Homo sapiens: one gene and its partner. The protein of the gene in region 1 purifies or fractionates together with the protein of each later gene. This does not show direct contact. Each region holds a gene or a part of one and is shown in the gene's direction. Other genes may lie near its edges.

Region 1 (3,500 bases):
CAGAGTCAAAAATGTATTACCAGAGAATAATTTTCTTATTAAGAACCTTCAATGATTGTGACCATTTCTAATTAATATACCATATTATAGAGTTTCTGAATCTTTTGAAACTTTCTGGAAATAATTTTCTATAATTTGTTTAGGAGTATTCCAACAATGATTTGTCTTTAGTACACAGTTAACCTTTAACTAAGTCAAGAGATAGTTATCCTGTCTTCCCCTTTCAGATCATAACTTTCTCTGTCCTCCACTAGTAACCATTGACCTATTTAATTTGCTTCCTTGCTTTTCTTTTTTTTATTTTACCTCATGATTTTGTCACAGTTCTTGATATATATATATATATATGTGTGTGTGAGAATAAGAGATCTCTATATATAGAGTTTATATATATATACACATATATACACACACATATATAATTTATTTGTTTAACTGACAGAAAAGAAAAATATATATATTTGTTGTATAATATATATGTATAATTTCCTTTTCTCTTTAATGGAAATGCATAGTGTTTCATTGTATGGCTATTTAATAAAGTATTATCTGGTTCCTTATTGATAGACATTTAGGTTGTTTCCTGCTTTTCCATGTTATAAACTGCTGTTATGAATGTCTTTTTATGTTTTCCAATTTGTGGTAATACATCTGTAGGACATACTCCATGAAATAGAATTGCTGTTTCAAAGGGTATTAACGTTTTACATTTTGATGGATTTTTCCACATTGTCCTTCAAAATAACTGTACCAGTTTACATTTATACAAACAGTGTGTGTGACAGTGATTATTTCCCTATGTACTTAGCTCTGAGTATTTGGAGCAGGTCATATAAATTGATCCTTTCCTTTTCACGTATAATTAGAAACAGCTCTCAGTGCAGCTTGGTTTTATCTATTATTTATGTATAAAATAGATATAAAATAAGTCATATTTTATGGAAACTTTAAAGTCAGCATGAAAAGTTTCTTTGCCAAGTAAAGCTTAATCTGGAAGAAAAAAATTGTTATTCTGCACCTATAAAGTAACAGTTGCTCACTGATTGATATTGTATTAATAAAGAAAGAATCTTCACGTCATTGTGACTCCTTGCCTTCTGTATCAACATGTATTAGTACTAGTAATATTGAAGTCCTTACCAACATTGTTCATCTCTTGCTCTGAAAATTGTCAGAGCTAAAACTTCTGTTAAGAGAGATACTCAAAACCCTGGAAGCTAGAGTTCTTTTCATCTACATAGAAGTTTATTGACTTTGTGATAAAATTGTCTTAAAAGATCTTAACTGAATGTCTAAAGCTTTTTAAGAACTTGTTTTTATCTAAAAATTTTAATCAATTGGATAGTAGAGATCATACGTATTCTCATGTCACTGTTTACTATTCTAGCTAAGCAGTGGCATCCATCTTGCTGAAATTCATTTTCTGGAATTAAAGTTTAGTTTTTGTTCTGTTTGTATAATATAGACTTACTAAGCAATGTAGACTTTAGTGTAGACATACTGAACAAAAAAGTTTTTGCAAAAGCAACCATGGCTCATGCCTGTAATCCCAGCACTTTGGGAAGCCGAGGCAGGCAGATCACAGGAGGTCAGGAGTTCGAGACCAGCCTGGCCAACATGGTGAAACCCTGTCTGTACTAAAAATACAAAAATTAGCCAGGAGTGGTGCTGTGTGCCTGTAGTCCCAGCTACTCGGGAGGCTGAGGCAGGAGAGTTGCATGAACCTAGGAGCCGGAGGTTGTAGTGAGTCAAGATCGCACCACTGCACTGGTGCGACAGAGCAAGACCCTGTCTCAAAAAAAAAAAAAAAACTTAACTTTCCCTGAAAAAAACGAGACAGAAAAACATCCTTGGTATACTCAGTTTCTATCAAAATGTCTTATGTGTCCTATTCACTCCCCTAATGCTAGTGCCTAAAACTGTGCCTAGCACATAGTAGGTGTGCAATAATATTTCCTGAACAAATGTAGGGGGCTCATGGAAAGTATTTAGTTGAGAGGATATTACTCTATTATTTAACATATACCATCATCCTATTCATTTTAATTTTTCTTTTTTATCTTCCAGCAGATATTTTAGTGTACTCTTACTCTGTACAATGAGTAATATGGAGATTAGTTGGAAACACAGTGCCAGTCTTCCAAATAGTTTATAATCTAATTAAGAATATAATCTTTTGAAAGTATATTCTTCTATAGTTTCTCATTAAATTACCTTATCATTAAAATAACTGAAAATATTATTTTTGATATAAAGTACTATGTACTTTTTGAAGAATTTTGTATTCTAAATCTTTTTACAGGTTTTGCAAATTTTGCAGTTCCAGCCAGATGCAGCACATCAAATATCACAGCAAGTGGGTTGGCAAGACACCTTAGTTAGGCTTTTTTTAAAAGCAAAATTTGAAAACGGAAATACTCTTCATAAGCACAGTAGAGCTGTTTTAATGAAAGACAATGATAAAAATATGTCAACTGAAGATACCAAGAAGAACTCTGATGAAAAAACAGATGAGGAAAAAATCACCTCTTTTGCCTCAGCTAATGTGTCTTCGGATCAGTGGAGTTTGGAGGATAGACACTCTTTAGACTCAAACACACCATTATTTCCAGAAGATAGCTCTGTGGGAGAATTGTCTTTCAAATCAGAGAATCAAGAGGAATTCTGGCATAGTAACCCTTCACATTTGAGTTTAGACCTCAGTGGAATTGACTCATGTGAAATGAGTGATAGTGGAAGTCAAGTGCCAGACAGTCTGCCTAGCACACCATCCCCAGTAGAGTCTACTAAATCGTTTTCTGTGCACTCTGACAGAGAAAGCAGCATCACAAATGATATGGGCTTTAGTGATGACTTCTCTTTACTTGAAAGCCAAGAGGTAAAATTGCTTATTTTTCCAAATGTTGTTTTTATTTTCATGTCTGATATATACTTCTAATCCTTAGAAATATGTGAGCAGTTGTTAACAATTTCATATTGTATTCATGTTCTAAGTTTCATGATCTAAGGTTTAGAAACCTGGAAGTCACTAGATTGTGAGTTTTTTGAGAGCAAAGCTAATGTCTTACTCATCTTATGTCTCTAGGGCCTAGTAAAGTTCCAGGTTCATTAAGGACTTTAAAAATATGTTAAATGATTACAATGAGTATATGTAATGGTTCTTATGATGTGCTTTGAACAACTACACCCTCTAGTTATTTAAAATTACTTTATATTTTCCATAGAGATGTGAGGAGGAGCTTCTTCAATTACTGACACATATTTTGAATTATGTAATGTGTAAGGGACTAGAAAAGTCTGATGATGATACTTGGATTGAACGAGGACAAGTGTTTTCAGCACTAAGTAAACCAGGAATATCCAGTGAACTACTTCGACCATCAGATGAAATAAAACTAACGTAAGCATTTAGTTAGTGATTTTCCATCCTCCTTTTGGTGACAGCAGGAGTCTAAAATAACGTTAGTTATTGAACATTTATTCAGTATTCTGTGGATATA
Region 2 (3,500 bases), on another chromosome or scaffold:
TATTGGAAAAGCTGGTACAGTTGAGGAGGAGAAGTCAGGGAATACAGGAATAGAGATGTGACTAATTGAATGGCCATTGGACTGAAAGTCAAGCAATCCTATATTTTAGACCTGATTGTGCCAGGAACTTCAAGGGATTTGAGAGGAAGTCATTTAACCTCTCTGAGTCACAGTTTTAATATTACAAAACAAGAGAGCTGAATGAGATCTGGTTTCACATTTAACATCGTGTCATTCTGTGATATGAGAAAGGCTAGGCAGAGACAATGGGGAAAAAATTGCATTCTCACAATCTTCCCAGCTCTCTCCATCTACCTTGTTTATGTATGAACTCCTAGCAAGATTTTGGTATTCAACAACATATGCAAGAAGAGCATCAGGCGTTTTCATCCCAACTGGTTTTCTAATTCTTTCCTTGTATATTGAAAGTAATTTTACAAATTAAAATGTTGTGCTAAGTCACAAAAGTTCAGAGAGAAAATGATAACTTTCACATATGAAAAGACACCAGGATTGAAAATGTGTATACCTTTATTTATTTATTCATTCACCCATCCATTTGTTTAATCAACCATATTTATTGAGTACATACTATGTTTCAGGCATCTTCTAGTTCCTGGTGTATATATGTATATATATATGTATATATACATATATACATATATATATACACATATATACATATATATATATACACGCATATATGTTGGGCATCCCTAATCTGAAAATTTGAGTGGAAGTGCTCCAAAACTCCAAATTTTTGAGCACAAACATGAAACAAGTAGAAAATTTCCTACTTGACCTCATGTGATGGGTCACAGTCAAAATGCAGGTACACAATGCACAGTTTACTCAGAATTAACAAGAGAAAAAAGAATTTCCCAGCCCCTTTCGGCTGTGATATATCTTTTTCTTGAACACCCAGTTTTTCCCATGAAAGCAAGTCCACAAAGGGTAAAAAATGGCACCTGTGCAGGATGAATGAGCCTATAGCAGATTTGCCACTCTGCCTCCATGGGGCCAAGATTTGTGTGTATTTCTCTGTGTGTGTCTTTTTTTGTTTTTTGGGGTTTTTTTTTATTTTGTTTTTGTTTTGCTTTTTCTCTACTCTGTGATGTAAATATACTGTTGAAAATATCAAAAAGGTCTGCAGATACTTATGGGTAACAGTGATAAGAAAAAAAAAGGAAGCATTTATGTATACTTATAACACAGAAAGTCAAGCTTTTGGATAAATTGGACAGTGGTATAGGTATAAAATGTCTGATAGAAGAGTATGGTGTTGAGGCCAGGCGCAGTGGCTCATGCCTGTAATTCCAGCACTTTGGGAAGCTGAGGCAGGTGGATCACCTGAGGTTGGGAGTTTGAGACCAGCCTGGCCAACAAGGTGAAACCCTGTCTCTACTAAAAACAGAAAAATTAGCTGGGTGTGGAGGCATGTGCCTGTAATCCCAGCTACTTGGGAGGCTGAGGCAGGAAAATTGCTTGAACCTGGGAGGCAGAGGTTGTAGTGAGCTGAGATCACATCACTGCACTCCAGCCTGGGCAACAGAGTGAGTCTCCATCTCAAAAAAGTAACAATAAAAAAAGAGTATGGTGTTGAAATGACCACCATATATGACTCAAAGAAATAGAAGGATAAACTGTTTAAGTCCTATGCTGAAGTTAATGAAAAATGTAAAAAAACATTCCACAAAGCTACAAATGAAGATCCCAATTGTGTATTGAGAAAGTGGATCCATCAGTATCACAAAGAACACATGCCACTTAATGGTATGCTGATCATGAAACAGGAAAAGATCTATCACGATGAACTGAAAATTTAAAAGAACTGCGAATATGCGTAGTTCTTTGGCATAAATTTAAGAAAAAACATGGCATTAAATTTTCAAATATTTGTAGTGACGAAACATCTGCTGATCAGAAAGCAGCAGAGAAATTTATTGATGAGTTTGCCAAGATCATCACTGATAAAAATTCTCACACTAGATCAAGTCTATAGTGCTGATGAAACATCACTGTTTTGGCATTATTGCTTCAGAAAGACACTGACTTCAGCCGATGAGACAGGCCTTGTGGGCAATCAGGATACCAAGGACAGGATAATTGCGCTGGGATGTGCTAATGCAGCAGGCACACACAAATGTAAACCTGCTGTAATAGGCAAAAGCTTGAATTCTCACTATTTTCAAAGAGTAAATTTCTTACTAGTCCATTATCATGCTAACAAAAGGCATGGGTCACCAGGGACATCTTTTGTGATTGTTTTCACAACATTTTGTAGCAATGGCTCATGCTCACTGCAGGGAAGCTGGACTGGATGAAGGCTGCAAGATTTTGTTATTCCTTGACAACTTTTATGCTTATTCTTCAGCTAAAATTCTCATCAAAAGTAATACTTATTCCATGTGCTTTTCCCCAAATGTGACTTTATTAATTTAGCCATGTGAGAATGGTGTCCTTAGATCAATCAGTGTAAATATAAAACATTTTCGTAAACAGTATGTTATCAGCAGTGAACATAGGTGTGGGTGTTTCGCATAAAGGATGTTGTATATGCTGTTGCCAATGCTTGTAATGCAGTAACTAAAGACAGTTGTGCATACCTGGCATAACCTCTGTCCTGCAACTATGTTCAGTAAGTATTATAAATAAAGTGACTTTGAATGATTCTGTATGTCAAATGAGAAAAAAAAAAGATGTCTGACCATACATACGCAAAAAAAAGTACCTTCAGAGTCCACCAGTAAGTTGGAAGAAGTTGATATTGAAGAAATTTTTAACACTGATAATGAGGCTCCAGTTGTTCATTTATTAACCAATGGTGAAATAGCTGAAATGGTTCTGAATCAAGATGATTGTGATAATAGCAATAATGACGATGGTGGTTAACACTGTAAAGACTTTGTCAGGGGCCAGATCAGGCAGGTCTTGTAGGCCAAGGTGAAAAATTTAGATTTTATGCAAAACACAATGGAAAGCGGGTAAAGGATCTTAAGAGAGGAATAATATGACCATTAGGGTTTAAAAAGGCCACTCTGGTAGCATGGGAGAATAAATTTGAGAGATGCCAGAGGGAAAGCTGGATCTTGGAAGGAAGCTGTTACAGTAGTTTATGGAGTGATAATGATGGTTGCATTAGACTAATGGGTGAATTTTAGATAAATTTTTAACTAAAAGATTTCCTGGTTTGTAGGTTGGCAGTGAAGGAAAGTAAGAAATTAAAGTTGATACTCAGTATTCTGCCTTAGGCCAGCCAGTGGATGGTGGTGCTGATGAGATGGGAACACTCAGAGAGGGGCAGAAGGAAAGACACATTTCAGGGTTCTATTTGGACATGGTACTTTAGCGATATCCATGAGACATCTAGGTGGGGATGGAAGATGAATACAGGAAATGTACCTTTAAGGAGAGGCTCGGGCAAGAGATAATAATTTAGGAGTTGTCTGCATATACATGGTATTTAACGCCAAGAGAAGGGATGAGTTTAGACATGGAAA

What was found. The genes of interacting proteins can lie anywhere in the genome.
Region 2: the proteins of NBEAL1 (region 1) and ANKRD22 purify together in Homo sapiens (co-immunoprecipitation; one large-scale study listed by IntAct). This does not show direct contact.

Annotation. Positions count from the first base shown.
Region 1 is NC_000002.12:203,133,375-203,136,874, forward strand, and holds part of NBEAL1 (neurobeachin-like protein 1), read left to right. Parts: intron 1-2,302; coding exon 2,303-2,878; intron 2,879-3,224; coding exon 3,225-3,400; intron 3,401-3,500.
Region 2 is NC_000010.11:88,845,345-88,848,844, reverse strand, and holds part of ANKRD22 (ankyrin repeat domain-containing protein 22), read left to right. Parts: intron 1-3,500.